Linked DNA regions of Homo sapiens. The gene in region 4 interacts genetically with the main gene of each other region. Each region holds a gene or a part of one and is shown on either strand. Other genes may lie near its edges.

Evidence for each region.
Region 1: changes in LARS2 (region 4) and XIAP together harm fitness less than expected from each alone (positive genetic interaction), as found in Homo sapiens cells (one large-scale study listed by BioGRID).
Region 2: changes in LARS2 (region 4) and TFB1M together harm fitness less than expected from each alone (positive genetic interaction), as found in Homo sapiens cells (one large-scale study listed by BioGRID).
Region 3: changes in LARS2 (region 4) and CSF1R together harm fitness less than expected from each alone (positive genetic interaction), as found in Homo sapiens cells (one large-scale study listed by BioGRID).
Region 5: changes in LARS2 (region 4) and PFKFB1 together harm fitness less than expected from each alone (positive genetic interaction), as found in Homo sapiens cells (one large-scale study listed by BioGRID).

What each region holds. Positions count from the first base shown.
Region 1 is NC_000023.11:123,864,680-123,871,172, reverse strand, and holds part of XIAP (E3 ubiquitin-protein ligase XIAP), read right to left. Parts: intron 1-6,493.
Region 2 is NC_000006.12:155,291,122-155,297,614, reverse strand, and holds part of TFB1M (dimethyladenosine transferase 1, mitochondrial), read left to right. Parts: intron 1-510; coding exon 511-662; intron 663-6,493. UniProt on the Homo sapiens protein: Mitochondrial methyltransferase which uses S-adenosyl methionine to dimethylate two highly conserved adjacent adenosine residues (A1583 and A1584) within the loop of helix 45 at the 3-prime end of 12S rRNA, thereby regulating the assembly or stability of the small subunit of the mitochondrial ribosome.
Region 3 is NC_000005.10:150,052,774-150,059,266, reverse strand, and holds the end of CSF1R (macrophage colony-stimulating factor 1 receptor isoform a precursor), read left to right. Parts: intron 1-1,674; coding exon 1,675-1,763; intron 1,764-1,882; coding exon 1,883-1,980; intron 1,981-2,925; coding exon 2,926-3,048; intron 3,049-3,129; coding exon 3,130-3,241; intron 3,242-3,930; coding exon 3,931-4,030; intron 4,031-4,836; coding exon 4,837-4,945; intron 4,946-5,042; coding exon 5,043-5,198; 3' UTR 5,199-5,972; downstream 5,973-6,493. UniProt on the Homo sapiens protein: Tyrosine-protein kinase that acts as a cell-surface receptor for CSF1 and IL34 and plays an essential role in the regulation of survival, proliferation and differentiation of hematopoietic precursor cells, especially mononuclear phagocytes, such as macrophages and monocytes.
Region 4 is NC_000003.12:45,392,881-45,399,373, reverse strand, and holds part of LARS2 (leucine--tRNA ligase, mitochondrial), read right to left. Parts: intron 4,942-6,493; 5' UTR 4,921-4,941; coding exon 4,687-4,920; intron 1-4,686.
Region 5 is NC_000023.11:54,958,280-54,964,772, reverse strand, and holds part of PFKFB1 (6-phosphofructo-2-kinase/fructose-2,6-bisphosphatase 1), read left to right. Parts: intron 1-1,390; coding exon 1,391-1,516; intron 1,517-3,792; coding exon of another isoform or gene 3,793-3,855; coding exon 3,856-3,949; intron 3,950-4,879; coding exon 4,880-4,946; intron 4,947-5,847; coding exon 5,848-5,922; intron 5,923-6,410; coding exon 6,411-6,467; intron 6,468-6,493. UniProt on the Homo sapiens protein: Synthesis and degradation of fructose 2,6-bisphosphate.

The DNA.
Region 1 (6,493 bases), on a different chromosome or scaffold from region 4:
TCAGGAGTTCGAGACCACCCTGGCCAACATGGTGAAACCCGGCCCCTACTAAAAATACAAAAATTAGCTGGGCATGGTGGCATATGCCTGTAATCCCAGCTACCCGGTAGGCTGAGGCAGGAGAATCACTTGAACCTGGGAGGCGGAGGTTGCATTGAGCCCAGATCGTGCCAATGTACTCCAGCAGCCTGGCTGACAGAGTGAAACTCCGACTCCCTCACACACACACACGCACACACAAAAAGAGATGGGGTCTTACTATGTTGCTCAAGCTGGTCTTGAACTCCTGGCCTCAAGTGATCTTCTCACCTCAGAGTGAAGTATTCTATTCCATGATCATGTTAGGATCTCAAGCAAGTACTTAAACAACTTTTTTTTTTCTTCTGGGACAGGGTCTTGCTCTATCGCCCAGACTGGAGTGCAGTGTCACAATCTTGGCTCACTGCAACCCCTGCCTTGCGGTTTCAAGCAATCCTACCACCTCAGCCTCCTGAGGAGCTGGACTCCAGGCAGGCGACAGCACACTCAGCTAATTTTTAAATTTTTTTTTGTAGAGACAAGGTCTCACTATATTGCCCAGGCTGATCAAACAAGTTATGGATAAGAGCCCACATCTTTTCTCTTTCTTCAGTAAAAATATTTAACTCTATCTGAAAGCCACAGTGCTATCTATATTCAAACATTTAGTACGTTTCTCTTCTGTCTAGGTTTTAATTTTTTTAAATGACACAAAGTAAAGGAAACTGTGCTACAAACCAAATTTAAACGATACAACATATTTCATGAGTGTCCGCATGTACCCAAATACTATCTACAAACTAATTTTCATTTTCCTTCATCCCATCATTTTAGCTACAAGTAAGTACTTCTCTACTAAACATGCTGAATTTAAACTAAAAATTTTCAATCTTGGCTGGGCATGGTGGCTTAAGCCTGTAATCCCAGCACTTTGGGAGGTTGAGGTGGGCAGACCACCTGAGGTCAGGAGTTCGAGACCAGCCTCGCCAAAATGGCAAAACCCTGTCTCTACTAAAAATACAAAAAAATTAGCTGGGCGTGGTGGCGCGTGCCTGTAGTCCCAGCTACTAAGGAGGCTGAGGCACGAGAATCGCTTGAACCTGGGCGGCAGAGGTTGCAGTGAGCTGAGATTGCGCCACTGCACTCCAGCCTGAGCGACAGAGCGAGACTCCGTCTCAATTAAAAAAAAAAATCAATCCTCTTTGGTTTAATGTAAGGTCAAAATTTAAGCATGGGCTTGTGTGATTCTATAGCTCATCTTCTCTTCTTTCACGATGTTACCTTTGATAATAACTAACATATGTAATGTGCTTTACAATTTAGAATGTTTTCATATATGGAATCTAATTTAACCTACATAATATATCATAGGCCTCATCTGAAATATGAGGAAACAGTAGTTCTGACTGTTACTCATCAAAGGTCATGCACCCAGTGATTATGACCAATATAGGTCTAAGGAAATTACTACAAGGATTACTGGCAGAAGGGACAGTCCAATGAGGTAGCAGAAAATGTTAGGCTTCCTTCCCTTTCAAGGCCTAAAAAATTAGCTAGAACCATAGAAAGGTTAAGTCACATGGTAATATATGCTGAGATGTCTGTGTTTTTTTTTTCTTTTCTTTATTTTTGAGATGGAGTCTCACTCTGTCATCCAGGCTGGAGTACAGTGGCATGATCTCAGCTCACTGCAACCTCCACCTCCCAGGCTCAAGTAATTTTCCTGCCTCAGCCTCCTAAGTAGCTGGGATTGCAGAGGCATGACCCAGCTTTTTTTTTTTTTTTTTTTTTTGTATTTTTTTAGTAGAGATGGGGTTTTGCTCTGTTGGTCAGGCTGGTCTTGAACTCCTGACCTCAAGTGATCCACCTGCCTCGGCCACCCAAAGTGCTGGGATTTCAGGTGTGAGCCACTGCGCCCAGCCAGATGTCTGTATTTCTGTATTTAAGGTGAATAAGATGATTACAGAAATAAGAATAAAATTTCAAACCATAATATTTTATAAGTACCAGGGAATGCACAATGGCAGCAGCCTTGTCCGGTTTAAGAAATCAGCTTTAATCCACTTGGTTCAACATCTGACCATCTGAGATCAAGCTATTCTCAGTCTGTACAGGTAAACGTGACTTTTCACTATGACCCATATCCTCGAAAATACATAAAACTATATCATAACAAGGTGAATCACATGTATCCATAACAAAGACTGGGTACCAAATCATACCAAAATCAAATCCCAAAATGTATCAAACAGCAGAGCTACAAATGTATCACAATTTAAAACAATAAAAGCCCATGCCAAGTCCTGCAAAATGGACATAAGTATGTTTTTATCATATAAAGGATAACCTATTATTAACCACATACAGAGCAGATAAAATATATAATCCATAAATTTGGCCTCAAATTCCTGTTTTTGTTTTTTGAGATAGGGTCTTGCTCTGTCCCCCAAGCTGGAATGGGGTGCCCTGATCTTGACTCACTGCAACCTCCACCTCCTGGGCTCAAGTGATCCTCCCACCTCAGCCTCCAGAGTAGCTGGGATTACAGGTGCACGCACAACCATGCCCAGTTAATTTTTCTATTTTTAGTAGAGATAGCATTTTACCATGTTGCCCAGGCTGGTCTTGAACTCCTGGACTCAAGGGATCTCCCTGACTTGGCCTCCCAAAGTGCTGGGATTAAAGGCATGAGCCACCATGCCTGGCCTGGGATTGTTATGTGGAATTTTTTTCCTTGACAAAATCTCAGATAATCAGGCTTAAAAACTATTATAATGGGTTTTGAATCGTTGGAATCAACTAGTCCTTAAGCCCAGCCACCCTGGGTTTTTTGTTTGTTTGTTTGCTTGTTTGTTTGTTTTGAGACAGGGCCTCACTCTTGTCACTCAGGCTAGAATGCAGTGGTGCCCTCATGGCTCACTGCCACCTTGACCTCCCGGGCTCAAGCGATCTTCACAGGCGCGTGCCATCACATCCAGCTAATTTTTTTATTATTGGTAGAGACGGGGTCTCACGATGTTGCCCAGGCTGGTCTCAAACAATCCTCCCACCTCAGCCTCCCAAAGTGCTGGGCTTACAGGTATGAGTCACCATGCCTGACCCTGTTACTTTACAGATGAAGAAAGTGCAGTATAAAATAATACACTGGATAAATAAAAAATGTATTTTGAAAGACTTCAGGCTGGGCGCAGTGGCTCATGCCTGTAATCCCAGGACTTTGGGAGGCCAAGGCAGGTGGATGACCTGAGGTCAGGAGTTCGAGACCAGCCTGGCCAACATGGTAAAACACTATCTCTACTAAAAATAGAAAAATTAACTGGGCATGGTTGTGCGTGCGCCTGTAATCCCAGCTACTTGGGAGGCTGAGGCAGGAGAATCACTTAAACCCAGGAGGCAGAGGTTGCAGTGAGCTGAGATTGCACCAATGCGCTCCAGCCTGGGCAACATGAGCAAAACTCCGTCTCAAAAAAAAAAAAAAAAAAAGGCCAGGTACGGGGGCTCACACCTGTAATCCCAATACTTTGGGAGGCCAAGGCGGGCGGATCACAAGGTCAGGAGTTCAAGACTAGCCTGGCCAACATGGGGAAACCATGCCTCCACTAAAAATACAAAAATTAGCCGGGCGTGGTAGCACATGTCTATAATCCTAGCTACTCAGGAGGCTCAGGCAGGAGAATCACTTGAACCCAGGAGGCGGAGATGCAGTGAGCTGAGATTGTGCCACTGCACTCCAGCCTGGGGGACAGAGTGAGACTCTGTCTAAAAAACCAAACCAAACCAAAAAAAAAAAAAAGACTGCTGGGCGCAGTGGCTCACACTTGTAATCCCAGCACTTTGGGAGGCTGAGGCGGGCTAATCACGAGGTCAGGAGATGGAGACCATGGTGAAACCCCGTCTCTACTAAAAATACAAAAACATTAGCCAGGCGTGGTGGCGGGCACCTGTAGTCCCAGCTACTTAGAGAGGCTGAGGTAGGAGAATGGCATGAACCCAGGAGGCGGAGGTTGCAGTGAGCTGAGATCGCACCACTGCACTCCAGCCTGGGCGACAGAGCGAGACTCCGTCTCAAAAAAAAAAACAGAAATGTTAACTATAGAATGTTGAAGGGGGGGGGGGGATTAAAACAACCTGTAGACAATATGATCGTCATTATTCTATTTCATAAATTTTCTATAATAAACACATATCTCTGGCCAGGCACGGTGGTTCATGCCTGGAATCCCAGCACATTGGGAGGCCGAGGCGGGCAGATCACATGAGGTCAGGAGCAAGACTCCGTCTCAGAAAAATAAATAAATACATAAAATAAAATAAGCCAGGTGTGGTAGCACACCTGTAGTCCCAGCTACTTGGGAGGCTGAGGCAGAAGAATCGCTTGAACCTGGGAGGCGGAGGTTCAGTGAGCCAAGATCTCACCACTGCACTCCAGCCTGGGTGACAGAGCTAGACTCTGTCTGAAAAATATATATATTATATATGTAATATATTTTACATATTATATTGTGTTATATATTATATATATTTTACATATATTGTATTATATATTATATATAATATATTATACATGTAATATATTATATACTATATTATATATATCATACATTATTATATACATATTATATATTTTGATATTATATATGATATATCATATATTATATATTAATCATATATAATATATTGTATATAATATAATTTATATCATATATATTATATATCATGTATAATATATATTATATAATATATATAGAAACACATATTTCTTTTATAACTTAAAATACTCAAAGGCCGGCACAGTGGCTCATGCCTGTAATCCTGGCACTTTGGGAGGCCAAGGCGGGCAGATCACATGAGGTCAGGAGTTCAAGACCAGCCTGGGCAACATGGTGAAATCCTGTCTCTACTTAAAATACAAAAAAGGCTGGGTGTGGTGGCTCACACCTGTAATCCCAGCACTTTGGGAGGCTGAGGTGGGTGGATCACGAGGTCAGGAGTTCGAGGCCAACCTGGTTAACATGGTGAAACCCCGTCTCTACTAAAAATACAAAAATTAGCCAGTTGTGGTGGCGTGCGCCTGTAATCCCAGCTACTCGGGAGGCTGAGGCAGGAGAATTGCCTGAACCCAGGAGGCGGAGTCTGCAGTGAACAGAGATCGCAGCCATTGCACTCCAGCTCTGGGCGACAGAGCAAGACTCTGTCTCCGAGGGGAAAAAAAGAGATACCAAAAAAAAAAAAATTAGCCAGGTGTGGTAGCACACGCCTGTAATCCCAGCTACTTGGGAGGCTGAGTCACCAGAATTACTTGAACCCAGGAGGTGGAGGTTGCAGTGAGCTGGGATCATGCACTGAACTCCAGCCTGGGTGACACAGCAAGACAATGTCTCAAAAACAAATAAATAAAATAAAATATTCAAAATACCCTTTTATTTTTTTTGAGTCGGAGTCTCGCTCTGTAGCTCAGGCTGGAGTGCAGTGGCGCAATCTCGGCTCACTGCAAGGTCCGCCTCCCGGGTTCACACCATTCTCCTGCCTCAGCCTCCCAAGTAGCTGGGACTACAGGCGCCTGCCACCACGCCCAGCTAATTTTTTGTATTTTTTTTTTTTTTTAGCAGAGAGGGGTGCCAGGATGGTCTAGATCTCCTGACCTCGTGATCCGCCCGCCTCAGTCTCCCAAAGTGCTGGGATTACAGGCGTGAGCCACCACGCCCGGCCTTAAAATACCCTTTTTATGTTTTGAATTCAACACCTAAAATAACATATCAAAAATGTGAACATGTAAAGAAAGATGGGGTCATTGACATGCACAATCCCACAGCTAATTGGAAACAAAGTCAATAACCTGTACTGTGGTACCCAACGTAGGGCTCTTTCCAAACACTGTAGCACATGACCTCTAAGATACAGAAACAGTATTTGTTAAATTCTAAAGTATTTTTTATCTTATCACTACTGTTTGTCTCTTCATATCTACTCACACAATGTCCTTTAATAGTGCTAACAGGTTACATTTTATAAAACTATTACCAGATTATCTCACAGAGATAAAGCTTGAGAATTGACAGCTCATGATAATCTCCCAGCCTCAAAAGAACAATGGAAAAACAAACAAACACACAAAAGCAAAATAAAAACAGACGAACATAAAAAAGCAAAAAAAAAAAAAAAAGAAGAAAGGCGGCCTGGTGTGATGGCTCGCGCCTGTAATCCCAGCACTTTAGGAGGCCAACGCAGGCAGATCACGAGGTCAGGAGAATGCGACCATCCTGGCTAACATGGTGAAACCCTGTCTTTACTAAAACACACACACACACACACACGGTGAAACCCTGTCTTTACTAAAACACACACACACACACACACACACACACACACACACACACACACACACACGAGAATGCGACCATCCTGGCTAACATGGTGAAACCCTGTCTTTACTAAAACACACACACACACGGTGACACCCTGTCTTTACTAAAAC
Region 2 (6,493 bases), on a different chromosome or scaffold from region 4:
TTTTTCTACCCACTTTGTACAGATTGTTGTTTCTGGGGTTTTTCTTTTTGGGCAAATTTGCCAGATTACTCCATTCCTATGGTTTCACTTACCACCTACGTATTGCAGACATTCACATCTTTATATGCTGCCTGTACCCCCTTCCTGGGCATCTGACCTCTGACAGCTTCATCTAGGTGTTCCATAGGCACTTTAACCTCATCATGTCCAAAATGAATTCTCTTTTTCCTCAAGCCAACTCTTTTTCCTGTATTTCCTAGGCCAGAAATTCAAGGACTTTTCTCTGAGTAACTGAGCAGTAATTAAGTATAATTTTTTCCTCAATAATCCAAAGCAGATTGTGAGAAAACATTGCTTTTGAATAATAAGTGAAAAAAAAAATTTAGCCATGTCTATTTATATATTTTTCTTTGATGCTATTAATATCCAGTCTGATTTTACTCGTCACTGAAATTGTATTCAGAATATATTGATGGAATCATTTCAGGTTGTTTTTTCCTCTGCCACCAGATCCTCCAAATGTACATATTATTGGAAATCTGCCTTTTAGTGTTTCAACTCCACTGATTATCAAGTGGCTTGAAAATATTTCCTGTAGAGATGGACCTTTTGTTTATGGCAGAACTCAGATGACTTTGACTTTTCAAAAGGAAGTGGCAGAGGTAAGTTTTAACATTTTGTGACTATTTTATCACATGTTCAAATTCCAAAGCAAAATAATAATACTGCATTTTTACCACAGTCTGTGTTTTCTAAGTTAATATCTTATTACACACACAAGAACCCAGCAGCAGCTCAGCCAAAAGTTAAAACTTTGATGATGATGACAGATGTAACTGCTGTGGGCTTCTGGGAAAACATGAATGATGTATGTTAGCCAAGGAGGTAGTGTGGTAAACACAGGGATGCAACAGCCATCGATGCCACTGGAGAAAGACAAAAGTGATGCCCTGTTGGCCATACCCAGGATTGGCACGTGATACCTTAAAATTGATCCTTTAGGCTTAATGGCATGGCAGTTAAAGAATATGATAATTGGCCGGGCATGGTGACTCATGCCTGTAATTCCAGCACTTTGGGAGGCCGAGGCAGGCGGATCACGAGGTCAGGAGTTTGAAACCAGCCTGGCCAACATGGTGAAACCCCGTCTCTACTAAAAATACAAAAAAAAAAAAAAAAAAAAAAAAATTAGCTGGGTGTGGTGGGGGGTGCCTGTAATCCCAGCTACTCAGGAGGCTGAGCCAGGAGAATTGCTTGAACCTGGGAGGCGGAGGTTGCAGTGAGCAAAGATCGTGCCACTGCACTCCAGCTTGGGTAACAGAGCAAGACTCTGTCTCGGCGGGGCATGCGGGAAGAATGTGATAATCAATTTGGAGCTGAGAAAGAGAAGGGGATTGAGGGTCTCATTATTCAGTATATAAATTGTACTTCCTCCCTCACCTCAGTGAAGTCTGCTATGCCTGCATTCCCATGGCAGAAGTGTTCTGGGTTCACTCTAGAAAGTAAACCCTCCAGGGTAAGCAGGGGTGGTGCTTGAGCTGCAAAGGTATAAGGACGGATGTGCAGACTCTTAAGTGGTTTTTTAAAAAAATTTTATTATGACATATAAGTACAAGAGTATACAGCCATCCCTTGGTATCCATAGGGGATTGATTCCAGAACCCCCACAAATACCAAAATCTACAAGTGCTCAAGTCCCTGATGTCAAACAGTGTAGTATTTGCATATAACCTGTGCATATCATCCCATATACTTTAAATCATCTCTACATTATTTGTAATACCTAAGACAGTATAAATGTTTTATAAATAGTTGTTACACTGTATTATTTGAGGAATAATGATAAGGGAAAAATCTGTACATGTTCAGTACAGATGCAACCATCCTTTTTTATTCCCTGAATATTTTTGATCTGGGATTGGTTGGATCCATGGATATGGAACCCACAGATACTGACGGATGACTGTATAATGTACATGGATGACTTAATAAAGGGCACTCCTGAATCCCCATGTACATGGATGACTTAATAAAGGGAACTCCTGAATCCCCACCCCCAACATGGGTAATTAAATCACTAGTACCTTTGAGACCCCATTGTATTCCTTACTCTGATTGCATCTCCTTTCCATCCCATGCTAGTAAGGTGATCACTACTGTGAATTTTGGATTTATTCCCTTGCATAGTCTTATCACACAGATTTATATTCCTATGATGAATACACTTTAGTTTTGTCCTTTTTTTTTTTTGGACAGAGTCTCACTCTGTCACCCAGGCTGGAGTGCAGTGGCACGATCTTGGCTCACTGCAAGCTCCGTCTCCCGGGTTCACGCCATTCTCCTGCCTCAGCCTCCCGAGTAGCTGGGACTACAGGCGCCCGCCACCACGCCCGGCTAATTTTTTGTATTTTTAGTAGAGACGGGGTTTCACCATGTTAGCCAGGATGGTCTCCATCTCCTGACCTCGTGATCCACCCGCCTCAGCCTCCCAAAGTGCTGGGATTACAGGCGTGAGCCACTGCGCCCAGCCCAGTTTTGTCCACTTTTGACAACTGGGTTTATATAATGTGTATTCATATAGTATGTATTGTTTTTATCCTGAACATTCTTTGTAGGATTCACTGACGTTGCTTATGACTGTAGTTTATTTAGGTAGCTATATATACTACCCACTATTTGACTGTGTAAGATCCTTATCTATTCATTCTCATGTTGGTGGACCATGAATTAGTTTCATCGTTCTGTTTTTACAAACAAAACTGTTGTAAACATCCCATACTGTGTCAGTTGGGGCACATGGGCAACATTTCTCTAGGGTATTTACCTGGGAGTGGAACTGCAAATCTTCACCACTGCATAGATAATGCTAAGTTGATCTCTGAAATCATCACGCCTGTTTATATTCCCACCAGCAGTGTGTATGAGTTCATTTTGCTCCATATTCTTGCCAGTACTCACTATTGCCAGACTTGTACATTTTTATTAATCTCAGGGTAATGGAATGTCATTGTGTTTTCTTTTGTCCTTGCTGGTTTGTAGCAAAATGGGGCACTATTGTGTGTTTACTGGCCTTTTTGAGTTCCTTGTTTTTAGTGCATGCTTTTTGCTCACCTTTCTTTTGGGTTGCTTATCTTTTTCCTACTGATCTGGAGGAGTTCTCACATACTCTTTAATACTCTTCATACTAGTCCTTAGTTAAATGTGTTGAGCATTTCTTCTACTCTATTGCATGTTGTTATTTTCTTTTTATGGTGTCTTTTGAAGAGCAAGCATTCTTAATTTTAAATTTATGTCTAGTGCTTTTTGTGTTTTGTTGAGGAAACACTTTTATCTTGAGTTCATGAAGATATTCTTCTGTTATCTTCTAGAAGCTTTATGTTTACCTTTCACATTTATATCTATAGTCCACTCGGGTTTGATCTCTGTGTATAGTGAAGTAGAAGCAATTTTACTATTTTTAACATATGGGTCCCAACTAACCTAGCTCCATTTACTCACAAGTCAGCCCTCGTTGATCCCTGTCAGCACCTCTGTCAGCATTGGTCTGGTTAGATACATCATATAAGCATTGGTCTGATTAGAAACATCAAGAAAAAAATGACATGAAATCCAGGAAGCAGAGGGCTCCCTACAGGACAGAGAGAAAGGAGTCCTCAGGAAGAACAACCAGTCCAGATTGGAGCCAATTAAAAGGGGAATTTGATAAAACTACTGTCAAGTTTGCATAGAGTCAAAAAAAAGTTGCAAAAACTCAGGAGAGTTTAAGATTGAATTCATGATAAATAAATAGAAAACTAAATATAACAGGGAGTGAATCAAGGGAAATATACCATTATTGGAATGAGAAGTACAAAAATATTATTTGGAGATAAATAATTATTTTGAAAACCTAAGAAAAAATGAGAGACATATATAAAAATAACTACAAAACCTAACTGAGAATCTCAAGGTCACTGAGATAAATCCAGAAAAATATCATAGCCCCAGAAGGAAAAATGATTATTTTAAAGAAGCTGATTTTTCCAAGAATTCTGTATATCTAATTATAATCCTCAAAGAACTTATCTTGAAATACGCAGTTCTAAGGATCATCTGGAGGAATAGACCTGCAACAATACATAAGAAATGTTGAAAAGGGAGAGTGATGAGAAAAGACTTCCTTGTCATATGCTAAAATGTATGGTGAAGCTTTAATAATTAAAGCAGTATGAGAAGCAGCACGTGACAGAGCAATTACTAGACTAGAAAGCCCGATGCAGACACCTTAGCAGTATCTGATAATGGTCAGATCAAAAATCAGCAGTGAAGGAAAGAATTAAGTAAATGCATGGATATTTGGTTAACTATTATGAAAAAAAATTATCTCTAAATTCCATTTGGGTCTTTGGATCTTCTCTTTCTGTCCTCATTACATTCATGCCTTCCTTGGCATTTTTCTATGTATGTATGTATGTATGATATTTAAAGTAGATGTTTTGGCCAGGCGTGCTGGCTCACACCTGTAATCTCAACACTTTGGGAGGCTAAGGTGGGAGGATTGCTTGAGCCCAGAGTTCGAGACCAGCCTGGGTAACATAGCTCCCTATGTTACCTTGTCTCTACAAAAAATAAATAAAAAATTAGCCAGGTCCGGTGCTGCATGCCTGTGGTCTCGACTACTCAGGAGGCTGAGGTGGGAGGATCACCTGAGCCCAGGAGATCAAATTACAGTGAGCCGTGATCATGTCACTGCACTCCAGCCTGGGCGGCAGAGCAAGACCCTGTCTCAAAAAATTGAACAAATAAGTAGCTGTTTTAAGATCCTTGCCTGCTAATTTCATTACCTCTATCATTTCTGTACTCTTTTAGTGATTGATTTCCCCTTCTTGCTATAGGTTGCATTTTTCTGTTTCTTTGAAAGCCTGATAATTTCTGACAAAACATCAGGTATTGTGAGAGTTTTATTTTTTTTAATGCTGATGAGGGCTGGATTTTGTGGTATTGGGTTGAGTGTTGGGTTTGTTGTGACACATAGATAAGATTGCTTGAGGCTTTTATTGTTCTGGTGGATCCAGGGTAGCTTTTAATTTGGGGCTCGTTGAGCCCCAGTACTACATCATGCCCTTTCTGAGGAAGGCACCCAACGCCCTGCATGTTACAAGGCCTCTTGAGCCATGTGAGCCCCAGTTGCTCCTGCCTTCCCCTGGTTCTAGTTCAGGCTCCCAAGCCTCAGGCACCTGCAGATCAGTGCTCAGCAGGGGACTTGGGGGACCCTTGGGACCCTTTTGCTACCTCAGGAGCTCTGCCTCACATTCTCTCTCCCTCTCCTGTTCCTGTCTCCCCCACCCGCTGCTCCTGCACACGTGTGAGCACCGCGTGTGTGCGTTTTCCATGTCTCTGGTAGTCTGCCCCACAAATTCTGCCTGCCGAGGCCTCCCAGATCTCCAGGTCTGGCTCCCTGAGCCCAGGAGACCTCTAGGCTCAGTTTGAGCTGCCCCCTGCCTCTGCTGCAGCCTGAGAAGGGCCTCCAGTCCTCTTCAGGCCGGGCATCTAAGGCTCATCTCCTTTCCATTTCAGTAATGACAGTCCTGCTCCACCTGTTGTCCTGTTTATGCAAACTCTTGTTTCCTATGACTTATTCAGCTTTATACTTGTTTCAGAACAAAACTTTTTAATGCCAGAATTTGTTTGAAATCAATAGACTCTACTACTACATAAGCTTAATTCTTTAAATGCCTTCCTCTCAGATAATTTGAGTGTATCATAAGAATTTCATTTCTTAGATCTATCCCTCTCTTTTTACCCTTGTTTCTGTTTAGGGGAATCATTTCCAACAAGGGCACTTTTGCCTTATCTGCTCCTCAGGGGCATTTGGCAATGTCTGACATGTTTTTGGTTGTCACACCAGGGAGGGGGCTCTGGTCTCTAGTGGATAGAAGGTTAGGGATGCTGGGAAGCATTCTTCAGTGCACAGCAGAGCCTCCCACAGCGAAGAACCACCCAACATTAATCAGCCCAAGATGTCAGTCATGCCAAGGTTGGAAAACTTTCCTTTAGATGATTTGGCCATAAAATCTTTCTCTCAGGAGTCTTGGAACTTCCCATCATAAAAACGTAGGACCGTTGCATGTTTGTTAGGAACCCTGAGATGATATCACCACTTTTCTTAAGGTCTTTGTCATTTCCTCTTCATGAACCTGCTAATTCTCTTGGGTTGGTTTGAATTGGGCCCATGCTGAGTTTTCTTTGTTGTTTTTCTCAACCTTTGGATATGTTGGTTCTGACAGAAACCATTCTTGTTTCCTCTGCACTTATACAACTTCTGACACCAGATGTGTGGGTTTTTTCCACACCAAGCAATCTCCAATTCTCCGAACACCAGCTGGGTATCCTGCAGTTTCATTCAATTCTGACACTGTCCACATGTTTTTAGTGTTAGATCCCACAAGTTAAGGGCCAAGTCCCACAAGACTGCGCCTCACTTCAGATGACAGTCACAAATCTGGGCCTCTAG
Region 3 (6,493 bases), on a different chromosome or scaffold from region 4:
TTCGAGACCAGCCTTACCAACAAGGTGAAACCCCGTCTCTATTAAATATACAAAATTAGCCGGGCGTGGTGGCGCATGCCTATAATCCCAGCTACTCGGGAGGCTGAGGCGGGAGAATTGCTTGAACCCAGGAGGCAGAGGTTGCTGTGAGCTGAGATCACACCATTGCACTCCAGCCTGGGCAACAAGAATGAAACTCCGTCTCAAAAAAAAAGAGAGATGGCTCTGTTGTCCTGTTGCTGTGATTCCTGGAAGCCATCCAGAACAGAGCCATCCAACAGACAGAGCCACATGGGGAACCAAAGAGAGGAAGTGGGGAGATTCATGTCACACATGAGTCAGGGTTAGAGGTGGAGCCTGGACTAGAATCCTGCTCTCTTGACTTCCAGTCCAGGAGTCACCCAAGCCACACTGCTGTCCTGGAGGTCTCTGTCTCAGGGGCTTGTGGGGTCAGGACAGGATCAGAACAAGAAGGGTGTACACTGCGCCCTCATCCTAGATACTGTCAGCTGCCACGCCTGGGGAGGCAAAAGAGAAGGAGGCCATCTCTTCACCCAGGGCCTTAAAAATGGGGGCCTGGCAGCATCACTTCCTCTTCTGATTCCCTGACACTTCTATGAGGGTGGCACACACTAGGCCTCTGAAGATCAGATCAAAATGAGCACCAAAGGAAAGTATTAGCTTCCATCTTCAAATACGCAGATGGGGAAAGTATTCCCAGAGTGGGTAATTTCGAGGGCAAATGGCCTGTAAACCAACTCTGTCAAAGGATTCCAGGCTGTTAACGGAAGCATAGTTTCTACAAGGGAGCGGAAGGTTTTTTCGGTTTCTCCTTCTGGGAACACTAGAATATGGACATTGTCAAGGTACACATCTCTAGCGCAGAGGGGACAGGAGGGAGAGAGAAATCCTATCTGGCTGGAACGTTAGGAGCAGTAGTGCTTCAGTCTACAGTAGTGCTTCTCAAATTCTCTACCCCAAGTGTGCTCTCATAGGCATCTCTTGAGGACTGTTGGAAGTGCACCACCTCAGGCCCATCCACCCAGGCCTGCTGATTCAAAATCTGCATTGCAGAGATTCCCGGGGTGATTTATCTGCACATGAGTTGCAGCGTAAGCAGCACTGCTCTAGACCAGTGGGCCTCAGCTTAGGCTGTACTTTGTGATCACCTGGGGAGATTTAAATCTGTGAATGACTGTTTTGTCCCTAGAGTTTCTGAAGTATTAGTAATTAGCCTGATCCTAAAAGCTCCCGAAGTGATTTTAATGTGAAGCCAGGGGTGTGAGGCACTGTCCAGAGAAGAGAGGGCACAAGGGGCCCTAGAATATGCCCCAATTCTAGTAGGGCTGTTATGGGGAAGAGGACTCCAACTTCTCTGTGGCCCTTGAGGGTAGAGCAGGGGCTAGGAGGAAAATCTCAGGGGTAGATTGGCATTAGGAACAGTGAAGAACTTTCTCACAGGCAGAGCTGCCCAAAACCAGAATGGGTTGTAAGCTCCCTCACCGGGGACAGCCGAGCAGAGACCAATGCTCACTCAGATGGAGTGTGGCAGGAGGGTTTCTTATCAGAAAGGGAGGTTCCAGTTGACCATGGGGTGGTGGGTGGTCAAGGCCTGAGCTGAGCAGTGCAGTGATGATGAGTGACCTCTGCCCCCCAACCCTCTCTCCTATGTAGGGACAGTGGCTTCTCCAGCCAGGGTGTGGACACCTATGTGGAGATGAGGCCTGTCTCCACTTCTTCAAATGACTCCTTCTCTGAGCAAGGTGAGGAGGTCCCAGGGCCAGGCCCCATTTGCTTGATAACAAGGGAAAAGGAGAAGGGGCTGCTGGGGTGAGGGGTGGGGAGTGTGGCAGGGCTGCCCTGACGCCTCTTCCCACCCTAGACCTGGACAAGGAGGATGGACGGCCCCTGGAGCTCCGGGACCTGCTTCACTTCTCCAGCCAAGTAGCCCAGGGCATGGCCTTCCTCGCTTCCAAGAATGTGAGTAGGAACCTGGCCCTGGCTCATAGCCACCCAGGTCTGTGCTCCGGGGAGGCTGGATGAGTGACGATGGGGAGGAGGAAACGGGAGCCTGTGAGGGGGTAGGGGAGGAGACAGAGTATGAGAGAGTCATTTGGGCAGCAGCTGCAAGGATGAGTGGGAGAAAGCTGTGCCCAGGGCTGGAGCTCTGGGGCTGGGCACCTGTGTCCCCAGCGTGAAGATGAGGAAGGGTACCAGGCTTTCTTCATTCGTTTTTACTAAATAGTGTATGAGAGACAACAGTTGTCTCTGCTCATAAAGCACGCGGTCTGGTGGGGATGATAACGGAAGCTTCCTCAGAATTTTGGGGATATTAGATAACGTATAAAGTGCGCTCGGCCTAGGAAGAAGTGCCAGGGAATGGGAGCTCTTGCCATCTTCCTTAGAACAGATTCGGGAGTCAGTGGTTTGATTGTTGGCTCTGCCACCTGCTCCGTGACTTTAAGCAACTATTTAAATTCTGTGCCTCAGTTTCTACACCTATAAAAATGGGCATAACGATTGTTGAAAAGAAAAAGGGTTCAATGTGTGCAGAGTTTAGGGAAGGGCCTGGCAGATAGCAGCTGCTATGATCAGAAGTAACGGTAGGGTTTGGAGACTGCTCTCTGCACGGAAGCCCTTCGCTTCTGGGGCCTGAGCAGACCAGTCAGAGGACAAAGGGTGAGAAGGGCCATGGCTGCTCAGGGTAATGGGGGTTTCTAAGCATTAAATGATCAGATCACGATACACATTCTCAGATCCTGGGCCCTGGTAGAAGGTATAGACAAGGGTTTGTGGTAAAGGACCAAAACTGTTGTTCACTCCAGCAGGGACTCCAAAGCCATGTGGGGCCCTCCCTGCCATCCTCCTCACCTCAGGCTCAGGTAGGAGAAGGCCCAAGACTAACCCTGCAGTGCTTTCCCTCAGTGCATCCACCGGGACGTGGCAGCGCGTAACGTGCTGTTGACCAATGGTCATGTGGCCAAGATTGGGGACTTCGGGCTGGCTAGGGACATCATGAATGACTCCAACTACATTGTCAAGGGCAATGTAAGTGCTGGGAGGGCTTGGGCCAGGCTGGGGAGGGGGTGAAGAGTCGGGGCCCAAAATAACTGGGGACTGTCATCCCAGGCCCGCCTGCCTGTGAAGTGGATGGCCCCAGAGAGCATCTTTGACTGTGTCTACACGGTTCAGAGCGACGTCTGGTCCTATGGCATCCTCCTCTGGGAGATCTTCTCACTTGGTGAGCCACTGGGCCCACTCCAGGCAGAGCCTGGGGCTGGCTCCTCTGGTTGCCCCACTGGTGGACAAAGCTGTTTGGTGCCCAGGACACAGCGAGGGTTGGTGAGAGTGCAGGAATGGGCAAGGGCTCTCGAAACCCAGCATCGTGGCTCCTGCGGGACTCGGCAGACCCTCTGCCCCTGACAGGCGCTCCTTTCTGGCTCTTCCCTCGTTTGTCTCTGCTCAGTTGCTGTTACCTGTTACCCTCCTTTGTCACTGTTTCCCTCCTTTGTCTGAAATCTACAGACCCTTGAAGATGCAGCTCTCTACTACTAGGCTCTAGTAGAAAGAACTGCTATTTCCCGAGGACTAGGCACAAGGACTTGTACTCAGTTCTTAAATACGCTGCTCCTATACCCTCATAACCACCTGACTGTCCACACTTTAACGATACACAGCTGAAGCTTTGGTCTGATTCCAAAGCCTGTGCAAGAATGTTTGGTGTGATAAGGCCTGGATAGAGGCTCACACCTTCCTAAAGCCTAAGCCTGCCACACACTGGCTGGCACACAGGAAGCACCGGGTAAGAGTAGCTGCTGTTGCAGTGTTGTCAAGTGGGACCCTTTAAACCCAGTCTAAGATGTGTGTGGGTGTGCGGGAATGGGGAGAAGACAATGGGCATGGCCTCTTACCTGATCTTGGCCTTTGCAGGGCTGAATCCCTACCCTGGCATCCTGGTGAACAGCAAGTTCTATAAACTGGTGAAGGATGGATACCAAATGGCCCAGCCTGCATTTGCCCCAAAGAATATGTAAGCGAAGGGATCCCAGGGAGGGAAAAGGACACCCCAGGCTTTCGCTGGAAAGGGATGGAAGGCCGTGTGGCCCTGATCTTTCCCTGTCCAAAATGTTCCAGGGTCAGACTTTATCTCTCCCATAGTGGACACAACAAGCCCCTTTTGAGTTCAAGCTATGGGGGATGTTCTCAGAGAAGCAGCTGTTCACTAGGGCTGGTCCTAACCGACCACTTTTCCTTTTTTTTTTTTTTTTTTTTTGAGACAGCATCTTGCTCTGTAGCCCGGGCTGGAGCGCAGTGATGTGTGCAATCATAGCTCACTGCAGCCTCAATCTTCAGGGCTCAAGCAATCCTTTGGCCTCAGCCTCCCAAACAGCTGGGACTACAGGTGTGCACCACCAAGCCCAGCTATTTTTAAAAAATTTTTTAGTAGAGATGGGATCTCACTATGTTGTCCAGGCTGGTCTGGAACTCCTGGCCTTATGCAATCCTCCTGCATCAACCTCCCAAAGTGTTGGGATTACAGGAATGAGCCACTGCACCTGTCCCTAAACAGACTTTTAAGAGATCGTTATTACAGTTACCCTGAGGATACCAAAATGGCCTCATCTGTCAGAATGAGGGTGATGAGAGTACCCTTCTGCAAGGGTTACTGTGAGGATTAAATGGTAAAGCATGCCAAGGACTTGGCATAGGTTTTATACTAAACTTACTTTGACTGGGTTTGGGGACCTCTGCTGGGTAGGTCTCTCTAGGGGTGTGTGTTAATGGCCCCTGGACCCTAGGGAGCTGCCCATGGGCATCCTCTGTCCTATCTCCCAGATACAGCATCATGCAGGCCTGCTGGGCCTTGGAGCCCACCCACAGACCCACCTTCCAGCAGATCTGCTCCTTCCTTCAGGAGCAGGCCCAAGAGGACAGGAGAGAGCGGGTGAGTGGGGTGAGGCTTGGGGTGGGTGGCCGGTAAAGCACGTTGGGCTGGGCCTGATGGATCTGGACTGACAGTTTCTGGTCCCTCCCACCCTCAGGACTATACCAATCTGCCGAGCAGCAGCAGAAGCGGTGGCAGCGGCAGCAGCAGCAGTGAGCTGGAGGAGGAGAGCTCTAGTGAGCACCTGACCTGCTGCGAGCAAGGGGATATCGCCCAGCCCTTGCTGCAGCCCAACAACTATCAGTTCTGCTGAGGAGTTGACGACAGGGAGTACCACTCTCCCCTCCCACAAACTTCAACTCCTCCATGGATGGGGCGACACGGGGAGAACATACAAACTCTGCCTTCGGTCATTTCACTCAACAGCTCGGCCCAGCTCTGAAACTTGGGAAGGTGAGGGATTCAGGGGAGGTCAGAGGATCCCACTTCCTGAGCATGGGCCATCACTGCCAGTCAGGGGCTGGGGGCTGAGCCCTCACCCCCCCCTCCCCTACTGTTCTCATGGTGTTGGCCTCGTGTTTGCTATGCCAACTAGTAGAACCTTCTTTCCTAATCCCCTTATCTTCATGGAAATGGACTGACTTTATGCCTATGAAGTCCCCAGGAGCTACACTGATACTGAGAAAACCAGGCTCTTTGGGGCTAGACAGACTGGCAGAGAGTGAGATCTCCCTCTCTGAGAGGAGCAGCAGATGCTCACAGACCACACTCAGCTCAGGCCCCTTGGAGCAGGATGGCTCCTCTAAGAATCTCACAGGACCTCTTAGTCTCTGCCCTATACGCCGCCTTCACTCCACAGCCTCACCCCTCCCACCCCCATACTGGTACTGCTGTAATGAGCCAAGTGGCAGCTAAAAGTTGGGGGTGTTCTGCCCAGTCCCGTCATTCTGGGCTAGAAGGCAGGGGACCTTGGCATGTGGCTGGCCACACCAAGCAGGAAGCACAAACTCCCCCAAGCTGACTCATCCTAACTAACAGTCACGCCGTGGGATGTCTCTGTCCACATTAAACTAACAGCATTAATGCAGTCAGCCTCTGGTTCTTTGTGCCACATGAGTACCTGCAAATTCCCTGGAACGTCTTTCTTTCCTTCCCTCCTTCACATGAAGTGACGAGCTCACAGCTGTGGAGCTTGACCACACTGTGCCCCATACGATGTGCACGGAATTGACTCCTGCTACACCAAAACCAGATAATTTAATAAACTTTATTCTTGTTGGGGGAAGAGGGAGGGAAAAAAAGCCACCTACTCCACTCAATAAATTAACACATGGCCAATTCCCAGGCCCTAAACAAACCTTGGGCACTTGAGCCAGTCCTGCTGTTTCCTTATGGCCCAGTCTGCTTCCCCTTCATAGAAGGGAGTTTTTCCTACTGCTGCTAGGTTATGTCATGACCAGGGACCACATCCCCTCTGTGGAGAGGGTCCCAGGCCCAGAGAGGATATTGGCTGCAGCAGCAGTGGCCAGGGAAAGGAGGAAGGGGATGCTCTTCCTCAAAGCTTGGGGTGGAGAGGACAGTGCTGGAAGAGAGCTGTGGCTGACTGTT
Region 4 (6,493 bases):
TCAAAGAAGCAATAGTTGAATCACATAGATGTAACATCTCTAAAAATGGAGTCTCTTCCTAAATTCTCTATAGCTGCATTCTGACGTAGGTTTAGCAGTAATAACAGGATCCTAAAGTACCAATTTGGGTCCTGAGTTTCCCCATTGTATTGAGAGCCTATCTTTCAACAAAAATGTTGAAATGGGAAGGTAATGAGAAGATCCTTTTAAAAAGGGAGAAGGTTGTTGTTCTCCAGGGATGATAAATAAGCAGCCTCAGACCAGGGTTATATAACTCTCCAGCTTCCAAAGAAGCAGCTTCATCATGAGAAACATAGACAACTGTACATGTATCTGAACAGAAGGAACACAGGCCAATGAGTCCTTATTGGATCACTGACTTCTGGCATCTTAATTCTTCCCCTGGTAAAATGATGAATGTCGTCATGAGTGTGCACATGAATGGATAAGGCAAACAAAGATGGTAGTCCTTGAATTAACTCCTACTGGGGGGACCTACTGTTCATGGGGGGACCTACTGTTCAAGGGCAAGAACTGTGCTTTAGTCACCTCTTTCTCCACGTCTGCCCCCAGTGCCAGCAGGAGTTTCATAAAATGTTGGATAAATGTTCGTTGGCCTTTGTGCTCCAAAAGCCTGATAACTGGCCCCTATGGAGCACTTTTTACCCAGCAAACTTCACAAATCCTACCCAAGTAATAGGAGGGTTCCCCACACCCAAGTTTAAATCATCTCATGACAGGGTCAAGGGTGGAGGGGCTGGAGAGAAAGGAAGAGCAACAGGTAACTGGGTAACTGATTCTGTTTCGTCACTAAGGGTCAGAACTTCTGCTTTTATTTATTTCTGCCTTCTGTTTTTTCTTCCTGGCCTTATTCCCTTGCTAGAACTTTACTCCAGTTCTTTAAGAATTTGCTTCCCCTGAAGTAATGCAAACAAACACGAAACAGAATATTCATAACCCTTCTTTTATGTACATATGTGGGATGGGGTTTTTAAATATTGTTTGCTGAATGTTCGCATGACTGATAATACACATAAACCAAATATAATCAGTAGAGCAGAAGAAACCAGAAATCAGATTCTTGCCAAGGAGTTCGTAAACTTCTTTCAGCAAAGAAGTTAAACAAACCTTTAACGGAACCATTAGCACGTGGCAAAAAGAAACCCACAAAAACTAGAGTAGAACTTTTCTTTGTGCTGCCCATCCTCTAGAAATTACCAAGGAGTGTTAAGCTGCCTGAAGGAAGAGATGGGAAAAAGAGAACAATTAAGAAATCTGGATCATACACAAATTAGAAAATCATCTGGAACTGCTGAAATGACAACTACAATGGATTTATACAAACAGGATGGAAAGCAACACATTGGTCAGACACTTTAATTAGAAACTGCAGATTTATAACTCTTAGGAAAACCACAGAAATCTGAGAGAGGACCTGAGATTCAGGGGTTGGTGGGAACTCAGGAACTTAATAACTGTCCTTAAGAAAGTGAGTGGCAGATAACCTTCTCAGCTTATGAGCAAGTCGTCCAAGGAGGTACAAGACCCCATTCTTTTACTTAGTGCAGAATCAGAAGAAAACTATCCACTCAATTCATGCCTTACTCCTTACAATGAATTAGGCTTATGGCTTATTCTTCAGAAATTTTTAGGAATATGGGAAAATAGCTGTTAAGAGTTCTTTGGGAGCTAGGAAAACAGTAAAATCCTTGATCTAAGCTGTTTCTAGTTTTTCATTTGAAAGTTTTTACATAAAATTATTTTTATTATACTAATGTTTGTTATGTATTTAATTTACCAATCTTGCCCCAAACATTTTCCACCTGTAATTTCTTTACTAGCATCTCTTGTTTTACATTTGTTCAATAAAGATTAAATTAATAGCAAAATCAAATGAATAATTATATACTAGCTAAGCCAAAATCCAAATCTGAGTTCATAAAAGATACATAGAAAAGTATTGTTTTCTAAAGTCTTTAATATTCATGAAGATTTCTGTTTATTACAGAAAAGGTATTCAGCTTATTGCCTGTCCCTGCCTTTTGCTTTTCTGCATGAATTAAGTCATTTTCCTCTGTGACAATGAAATGAGTTCTATCATCTGGGGGTGGAAAAGAGAGAAGGAATGATGGGAGTTTCTGTTATAATTGAGCAAGAATCTGATTGAAAGGGAAATTTTCATAATTATATAAAAGTATAAGAATTTAAGCCTTTAAAAGAGATTAAGATTTAAATGATAGGGAAAGGATGGCTTTTATAAGTGGGTCCTATTATTTTTGTCAGCTTCTGACTTTAGAAGAAAGATGACTTCTGCCTCTTTATAGATCACGCTCTGAAGCTGTGGCTGAGCCTAGAGGGTGACAGAGTAAAAGGAGCACCTCAATAGGAATCCGGAGCCCCAGTTCTGGTCCTAGCTTTGTCACTAGCTGTGAGGCCTTGGGCAAATTCTTTTGCCTTCTGGGATCAGTTTGCTAACTGTAAATCAAAGGTGAGACAAAAGAAGGTTTCTGTGTGGAAAAGCATGAGCTCAGGAATCAAACACACATTTGATTTTGAATCCTGGCTCTGCCATGTCTTGGCAAATTACCTAAACCTTTTTCTGAGCCTCAGTTTTCTTACTCCAAAAATGAGGATAATAATACCTACCCGCTGGGTTGTTTCAGGATTAAATGAGATAATCAATTGAAAGACAGTGCCTGGCACATGGTTAAATGCTCATTAAATGCAAATTATTTTTTAAATGATAAATATGGTGATTTCAAGACATTCCATTTCAAAAAACTTATGTGAGTGGATTTCAAGTGAATCTGATACCAGAGTGAGATCGATTATAAATGCTTCAAAATCCATGAGCATTCCGTCATAGTCTCAGGTCCTGATAGACACACCACGTTCTGATCTTTGTGTATCTTTTATTTATGTACCACTTCAGTTTGTAAAATGCATTTTGTCACACATTTTCTCATTTGATTTTCAAAACAATTCTGTGAGATAAACAATGCAAGGAGCCCAGAATCCAAAACATTAAATGATGTGGCCTGGATCACACAGGTTTCCTGGGGCAGAGCCAGCATTGCAGCCCAGGCTCTGGCTCACTCACTGAGTGCTCACTCTGCTTTGCCATTCCTTGATTCAAACCCTGATAGGGGGCTGCCAGGGGATCACACACAATGCCCCTTATGCTATCTCCCCAATTGCTAAAACAATTTATTTTGATCCATTTGATATTTTAAAAAACTGTATGCTTAAGAAGAATGAGATGTCACAAAATCAGTAAGCTACAACATCAAAACATTTGGAAGTCAATAAATGATTATCTAAACCAAAAGGGAAAAAAAAGCTAATTTTACTGTCCTCACTCAGAATTAAACTGCTCCTTAAGAGTTTGTTTTCAAAATCTATTAAGTTACATTAGTCTGATGATGTTGACACAAGGGCTTTTCACTTCCTAACAAGGTAGAAGTCAAGCTTTCATTGTAAAATTATGTATTACATTCAAACCTTCCCTTTTTTTCATTTCATTTTACTTGTTACACACTACATCTTTTTCAATAGCAATTTTTCTTTCTAACCATTGCCCAAAATCATCTTTCAGTTTAACACAAATAGCTCTCCTCCCCTTACTCATTTTTCATAACCACCAATCTCACAGAAAGAATGAATGTGTTGACCGAATCAGGAGATGGGGAAAAGGCAAGTCTAGAGAGGTGTGGTCTTGTGCAGCTGTACTTATTCAGCTGCTTGCCTTGGGCCTAATCTCTTTATTAAACATAGAGGGTTTGTATTATTTGACTATAACTACTACAAAGAGATGATCAGAATTTAAAACTCCAATCAGATTCAAACATTTCATGTAACAATCACATCTCCCAGCTGTCATTTTGACCAGTATCAAGAGGTAAGGGTTAACACGTTCCAGACTGATTCCCAGCAAGCTGGCCTCCCAGAAAAGGAACAGAGAGCACTCTGTGGAAACTGGCTGCAGCCAAGTATTATGCTTCCACCATTAATTCAGGTAGAGTGCCGAGCTGGTGTACCTGGTGCAGAAGCCAAGGGTCCACTAACTCATGTAGCTGCTACCTCAAGGTTAGACCCTACCCCAGTTCACAACAGTGAAAGGGCTGGTGTGCCCCAAACCATGATGCTAAGGCAGCAGAACAGAGTTGGAGGCTACGATTGCCAGGGAAGGGGCAGTTACTTCTCAGAACATGTAGCCAGCGAGGAGCCCAGGTGCCTCTCCTGGAGTCTCAGATATGACCCTGCCAGATCCCTGTGTGCTGCCCCACCATGCAATGGACCACAAAGGACCCATCATCTGGTAGAGCTCCTATTTTGATGAGCTTCCCCAGTAAATGTTGCTCTAGAACACCTGGTTTGCTGCTGTCTGTCATACACCTCGTGCGCAATATTACTATGTGTGCATCCACCACATTGGAAACTCTTGTAAACACTACCTTTGTATCACCTCATTTATGCCTCCCAATCCATTTACCCCTCCCAATAGTGCAGGTGGGCACTATTATGATCACTCTCCATCTCAGATAAGAGAATTGAAGCACAGAGAAATTCAACAATTTGGTTCAAGGTCACATATTTAATATCTTATTTGAACCAGGTAGTCTAACCCCAGGGTCCAAACCTTCAACCCCTCTTCTCTACCCTCTTAGAATCTCTCAGAATACTCACATCAGCTTCTGAAATTTTGGAGGCCTGTTCTTTTATTCGTTGATGCCACCATTTCTCAACATCCTTTCTTGTCTGCAATGTATACTCTTTTGTCCACTTTCCCGTGGCACTGTAGATGCTTCTGGTACATCCGGGAATTACTCTCCTTTCCCACTTGATGACATCTGGCCCACCATTTAGCTGTCTTTTCAGAAGAGAGGCATAAAAACCCAATCTCTGCCAAACAGAAGCCATTCTTCAGAAGGTGAGAAGGCCCTGAAAAAGAGGGCAGAAAGCACACTATGAGCTGCCTCAAACCCTCCCCAGAGCTTATCTTTCCATTTGGCACAGTCCAGTGTTCTGGCCCTGTGCTTTCCTCTTACTTTTAATAATTTCTTTCCCTGAAAAGAATACTTTAGCAATTCAATTGAGCTAAACACAAACTTTTTAATAGAAAATATAAAGGGTCAGTAACCCCTAACATCAAAGATGCAAAAATCCTGTAGGAAAAAATGGAGACCATCAGCTGGCCAGCTCCTGCGCAACCTCACAAGTTGCATGGAAGGCATGGAGTGCCCTCCCTCCCCTCCCCATGGGCCAGCCCAGGGACTCTCCAGCAGGCTTCACTTCTTATGTCTTCAAGCCTCAGAAGAGCTCAAGCACATGCTGAGTTGGCGTTAGGCTCAAATATCAGAAGGGGTCTAAATACAGGCCTCCCAGGAGGGCCAGAAATTCTGAACTACTATTAGTAATTTTTATACATATTATGAGTTAAATATACCCTGTAGGCTGAACCAGAAAATAACCATTATTTAGAAGACTGTTAATTCATTTAGTTTCTCCTTCATTTACCAAATATTTATTTATTTATTTACTTACTTTTTAGAGACAGGGTCCTGCTCTTTCACTCAGGCTGGAGTGCAGTGGCATAATCATACCTCAGTGTAACCTCTGACTCCTGGGCTCAAGCGATCTACCTGCCTTAGCCTACCAAAGTGCTGGGATTACAGGCGTGAGCCACCACCAAATATTTAATGACTACCACTAGGCCCACACGTTGTTCTAAGTACTGGGAATATAGCAGTAAACACAAACAGAGTCCCTTCTTTCTTTCTCTGTTTTTTTTTCTTTTTTGAGACAGAGTCTCGCTCTATTGCCCAGGCTGAAGTGCAATGGCATGATCTTGGCTCACTGCAACCTCCACCTCCTGGGTTCAAGCAATTCTCCTGCCTCAGCCTCCTGAGTAGCTGGGATTATAGGCATGCACCAACATGCCCGGCTAATTTTCGTATTTTTAGTGGAGATGGGGTTTCACCATGTTGGCCAGGTTGGTGTCGAACTGCTGACCTCATGATCCACCCACCTTGGCCTCCCAAAGTGCTAGGATTATAGGCGTGAGCCACCACACCTGGCCCAGAGTCCCTTCTTTCGTAGCACTTATTACATACTAGCAGGGAAGCAGATAAGAAACAAACAATAAGGGAGGCAGATGAGAAACAAAAATATATAACATGTGGTCACGGTGAGTGCTATTTTTTGAAATACAACTCATAGGTTGGGGCCTACCAGGATATCCAGTTGTGATTCAAAATCCAATTTTAATGTTTCGTTGGCTTCTTCCACAGGTAAATACTGGAAATGACCTCACTGAAGAAGTTTCATGTTTTATTGCTATTCAAAGGGTTGAGGTGAGATTTTTATCAAATATTTAAGATATAAATACTAGACTAAATAGCCTAAACTTTCTCCTTCTGGCATAACAGCATTCAAGAAGTGCTACAGTGAAAAAACAGATGACAACAGATCTTTTCAAAACCAGAGAGAAATA
Region 5 (6,493 bases), on a different chromosome or scaffold from region 4:
TACTAATCATAGCTATTTTAAGTTTCCTATCTGATAAAGATGGAAACAGTAGACAAAGGGGACTCCAAAAGGGGGAACAGTGGGAGGGAGCAAGAGTTGAAAAACTACCTAGTGAGTACTATGTTCGCTATTTGGGTGATGGGTTCACTAGAAGCCCAAACCCCACCATTACACAATATACCCAGGTAACAAACCTGAACATATAACCCCTGAATCTATAATGTAAAAAAAGAAAGTAAAATAATCCAAATAAATAAACAAATTCCTTGTCTGATATTTCCAACATCTGTGTCATAACTTACTCTGGTCCTAATGATTGCTTTTCTCTTCAGACATTGTTTTTATTCCTTGCTTTGTTCGCCCTTTGTGCTACACCCTGGAGATAATATATCTCTTAAATCTCTTATAGATGTATTCCACTGTTATTTTTACTGATGCTTTTTAGCCTGGTAGTGGGGGAATGGGGACCTGGGACATTCTATGCTATGCTGATTAAGTCTCAGTCTTAGGCAGGCTTACCCTGGGTGTTGGAGGTATGACCTTCACAAGTGTTCCTGCCCCTCCTCCTATGTTCTAACCCAAGTGGGCTTAGCACATTTTCCTGCCCCTCCTGGGTTAGGACTTTTTTTTTTTTCAATTTTCTCCCCCAGCTGTAGTGAGTTTTCACCAGTGCCCTCAGTTTCTGTTGCCCTTTCTTCTGAGGACTAAGACTTTTTTCCCTTTGGGAAGATAAGGTAGATTGGTATGGGCAGAGTTTCAGTGATGTTGGCCATTCTGCTCTGCCAGCTGCAGTGAGTTTCTCCCAGTACTTTCAAGCTGGTTTTTGTTGCCTTTTCCCTGAATAGTAAGGCTTTTGCTCCATAGAGAATATAGGGAAACTAGTCTGTGCAGAATTTCAGCAACAGCTATTATACTGTTCTGCCCGAGCAGAACTACAGGATATCTTTCTCAGGATTCTTCTCAGTCTTTCTTGTCAGCACCTGGGGCAGTTCCTGGAGGAAAACTCTGCAAAGGGGTGCAAAATTGCCTATGTCTGCAGCCCCTACAGGCTTCACATTCTCACACTAGCCCATAACCAGCCTTTAGCAATTCATTATAATTTTTAGCTGAATCCTCTTATAAAGTTTGTATGTTGTTCAGTGGTATCTGCACCAGGTAAGCAAATGCCTGTTCCTGTGGCTCCCTTGAAGATGGTTGTTTCTACAGGTTTGTGGTACTGCAACCTCAGTTTTCTGATGAGTCTGAGAGAAGTTCTTAATTTTCACTTTCCCGGTTTTTTCGTTACTGTAATGGTGGGAGACATGTTCTTTACAACTCTACATTTCTGGCCTAATACCAGAAGAGCCTATGAATCTGAGGATAAGCTTTTGAGGGTCTGTTTATTTTTCAGCATCCATACCCCAGTTTACCAATTCCCCCACAATGGTGATCATGGTGGGTTTACCAGCTCGAGGCAAGACCTATATCTCCACAAAGCTCACACGATATCTCAACTGGATAGGAACACCAACTAAAGGTATGTCTCTGAAAGCCTTTGTTCAACAACCCCATAAAAGCTACTGGCTGAAAACCTTACTTAGGTAGAAGGCCAAAGTCCTCAATACCAGAAATGCCCCATCATTATTATTACCAGCATTAGGACTACTGCTACCACTATTACTACATTCTTATACATTTTATAACTTCTTGAGCACATACTTTGTGCCCAACACCACTCTAGGTGCTAAGCATAGGAAAACTAGTATTAAGATTAAATGTCTTCTCTCAAGAAGTTCCATGACCTCAAAACAATCCTGTGAGTAACATATTATTTTTATTGCCATTACTATTATTGCCATACCAATATTACTACTTTTATTAGCATTACCACTTCTTCACCATTTCATAGCTGAGGAAATTAAGGCCCAAGGAGTGAAGTGCCTTGTCTAAAGGCATATATCCAGTTACAGAACCAAGATATGAACCCAGGTCTATTTGATTCTAAGCCTGATATTCACTGTGCCAAGTCTAATGCATGATTCTACTGATTGGAAGAGAAAAGAATCCCATGTTAGCCCTATAGTCTCCTTTTCTTCATTCTTTTTGTCTCCTTCTTTTCCTTGTTAATCTCAACATCCTGTCTCTCTGCCCCACTTCACTCTATCTCTCCCCCTCTTCCTTCCTCTCCCCAATTTTTGTTTCTTTTTCCCATTTCTTCTTTCTGTTCATCTATGTTCTCTTTATCTAATTCACTGGTGAGGAGTTTCCCGATGGTTTACCATGTGCCCAAACTCCTGCTAGGCAGTGGGGATACAAAACTGGTTGAGACTCACACCCTGTCCTTGAGGAGTTCTGAGTCTAGCTGGGATGTATAAGAATACCTCATATCATCTAGGAATTCTAGAGCAGGAGCAGGGCGCTGTATGAAATCACAAAGGGATATGCCAACTGGAAGGCAAGGAAAGCTTCCTACATAGGATATGTTTGAGCTGAGTCTTGTGGGAGGAATAAGACATTGGCAGAAGGGAAGGAGAGAAGGAGCAGCTCTCATGGAGGACTGCAAGCTCTCAGGAAAATCTGCTGAGTGTAGAGGCACATGGGACACTGGCAGACGGGTTTCTGCCTTAAGGGCCCCATCATGGGTTCTGATTCCCCTGCTTTCTATCTTCTTCACTCAATTCTCTCAAAGGCCTCCAGAGTCATATTTCAAAGCACAAAGCTGAACATGCCTGTGGCCTCCAAAGGTCCCCTTGGCCTGCAGGTTTAAATCCAAGCTCCTTACCCTGTTGTTCAAGGCCCTCCACAATTGGCCCCTTCCAGCATCTCAGGCCTCAGCTATAGTGGATGACTCACCATCCTCCAAACATGCTCTTCCTTCTGCCAATGCCATACTCTTGCTCAAGCTGTTCCTCTACCTGGAATGCCTTTGTTCCTGACTCCCGCTGCCCATATCTGCCTGTAAAAGGTGCCTACCCTAAAAAGCCTGGTTCAAGTGGTGAAACCTTCTCAGATCATTCCAAGTACAATTAGTCTTTCCTTCTCTCTCACTGTCTTCCGTGGCTTAATATTGTCTTTGTCAGAGCATTGAACAAACTCTGTGGGAGCTCTCCATTTACTGGTTTACTCACTGTCTTACCTGTTGGACTGTGAGTGCCTTAAAGGCCCCATCATGAAGATCGGGCTAATCCCTGAGACCCAGAGCTCATATCCTGATTCACAGAGTAGGAGTCAAAAAGTATTTGTTAGATGAGTGAATGAAATATTAACTCTTTGGCTGCTTATCTTCTTTCTCCTCCTTTCCTTCCCTCCTCTCTAGTTTTTCATCATTGCAAGTGGGAAAGTATGGCCTAGAGATTTAGATTTAGAATCTTCCTCATAATATAGAAAAATAAAATAACTTTGGACTAGAAGTCAGGAGGTCCAGTCTATATCTGTCACCAGCTCACTCACTGTTTGACCCTTGGTGATTAATTTTACTCCCTAGATCTCCATTTCTTCATCTTTCCACTGGAGTAGGGCATTTTAAGGATTGGCATTTATGATAAAGTAGAATAATGGAAAGACCACCAGCTATGGAGCTAAATAGACCTGGGTTTGATCTCAGATATCCACAGATAGGAAATAACTTACACTGTGTAAGTTATTTCCTATCTCTGAACTTTCAGTTTCCTCATTTATAAAATGGTAATAGTGATCTCTACTTTGCAGGGCTGTTGTGAGGAATAAATAAACTGGTAGCCATAATTTGAAGTTTTAAAAGCACATTTTGTAGCTACAAATTATACCTTCTTCTACCTCTGAGGTCCCTCCCAGCAAGGACATTTTTTTGGCCACTGGGATCTTCCCAACCTCTTCACTGGCACTCCCTGCTTTCAGTGTTTAATTTAGGCCAGTATCGACGAGAGGCAGTGAGCTACAAGAACTATGAATTCTTTCTTCCAGACAACATGGAAGCCCTGCAAATCAGGAAGTAAGTACCCAATATTTTAGGAACCTGTGCTGTCTCATGGCTGAAAGGCCCTTGTTCAGATATTGGGGGAGTAGGGCAGAATAATCTGGACCAGAAAGGAGGCCCTCTAGACTCTCAAACAGTAGTTGGAACAGCCCTTCCATTTTCCTGCCCAAATCCTGTTTCTGGTCAAGAATAATCTGGACCAGAAAGGAGGCCCTCTAGACTCTCAAACAGTAGTTGGAACAGCCCTTCCATTTTCCTGCCCAAATCCTGTTTCTGGTCATAACCATCCACTTATCAAGAACCTTTAATGGTCTTCTACTTCTGACAGGAGAGAGTAGAAACTTCTCAGCTTAGCATTTGAGGCATGAATCTCAATACCTTGGCCTACTCTAGTTTCTGTAGTCTCATCAGTTCAACCTCAAGGTCTCTCTGCACTACAAGACTCTGAGTACTTGCAGAATAGAGCCTGTGCCTTATGCCTTCATTATAGAACCTGGCAGTGAGTAATCACTAAAGAGATTTTTGCTGAAAGCATAAATACATTGCCACTGTCATGCCTGTGTGTTACCCATGCCAGGAATGCCTTTTACTTCACAGACCACATGCTCTACTTGGGTCCATAAAACAGTTCAGCTTGAGTTCCATTAGCTCAAGGGTTGGAGCCCTTAATATTATGGCTTCTGTCATTGCTCAGCTTTTCCTGATTGTGTCACTTTATACCTGCCCGTAAACCGTGTAAGCTGTGCACACATAGCCACTTTCAACTGTTTGACCCCTCTGTGCTTAGCACGGTGCCTAAAGCGTAGGGCACCCTGTGTAGATGTTCAATACATGATAAGTTAGTCTAAGACATGAGAGATGGTACAGAAGATACTGCAGACAATGAGAGAGAAATCCATCCTGGGGGATAAGGGTTGCCTCTTTTTCTTTCCTGGTCTATTTCAGGCAGTGCGCCCTGGCAGCCCTGAAGGATGTTCACAACTATCTCAGCCATGAGGAAGGTCATGTTGCGGTAAAGAAATTTTTTATTTTTTCCTTGGGTAACTACTGGGAAGGGAATTAGCTAATATGTACTGAACATTTACCAATGTGTACAGAACATTATGTTCTGAGTATTTGCATATATTAATAATTTAATTTTATGCTCCCCCCTTGAGATAGGTGTTGTTATTATGCCCCAATTCAGAGCCCAGAAGAATGGTTCACAGAGACATTAAATAATTTCCCAAGGTGGTACAACGTATACCTGGCAGGGCCAGAAGTGGAATCCAGGTTGCATAGCTTCAGAATCCCCGCTCTTAACCACTATACACTACCAGTCTACCCCCAATAATTCAGCAGGACTATATTAGAATTTAAAACTGCAGTACAAACAGTTTTGAGTTATAGAGACTTACCTAAATATCTAGTCAATATTTTGGCTAGGATTTGCAAATTATAAAAGGGGAGGAGATTCTCAAATATGCAAATGGTCCAATCTCAGGTGCTGAGGTTAGGGAATTGTTTCCTGTTTTAGAGGACTTCTAAAGTGATAAGGAAGGAAGAAGCTTCAGCTAGGAATTGAGAGAACCAGTTCTAGCTCTGCTCTGTCAGCAACTCTCGGTGACTTTGGTCAAGCCAACTTCTTCTAGGCCTCAGTTACCTCACCTATAAAATGACCCTAATAAAAACCCACAATTTCCTCTTGCCTTATTACACTCACAGGGTAGCATACATTTCTGGACAGACCATAAGGGCCCAATATGTGCTTGTGAAATTGTCATAAGCCAATCATGAATCCTTCCTATCCTTCAAGACCTTGTTCAAGTTCTACCTCCATATGGAAGCCCTCCACTTAGCACAGGGATGGGCAAAGAGTAGGTGTTCTGTTAGCACCAGATTCAGAGTAAGCCAATCTCATTACCTGCCTCTAGGTTTTTGATGCCACCAACACTACCAGAGAACGACGGTCACTGATCCTGCAGTTTGCAAAAGAACATGGTTACAAGGTATGGTAACACTCCAACTCTTATCTAGAGCCTATTTCTCCAGCACAAACCCCAAAGAAAGGCAAACCAGGGGACTCAGAGCGGCCAAATCCGCAACCATAAGCTCAACATTTTAATTTGGTTCTCTAACTTTCCAGGATATAGTCAGAAGCAGCAAAGCAGAACAAGAAAGGAGGGGTGCCACATTAGGCAATGGAAGTTGACTGCAGACAGGCTGGCTATGGGGAAAGAGTGGAGAGAGTCACTACAAAAAACTTATATAAGACCTAAACCCAGTAAAGATATAAAACAACAGTCTGGGGTCATTCAGTTTAGAGCCAATTTGCCTCATGAAACTCAGAAGCCTGGAAGTACCACTGTATGAGAGCATTATGTTGTCAGAGATGCCCCTGGAGATGACTTAGAGCCATTGAAAAGGAGTAAAGCTATGTTCAGCTCCTACCAAACATAATTTCCTGCTGGAAATCTCTTTTCTGTTTCTTTTATAGGTGTTTTTCATTGAGTCCATTTGTAATGACCCTGGCATAATTGCAGAAAACATCAGGGTAAGGACCACCAGTTACTTTTCCAC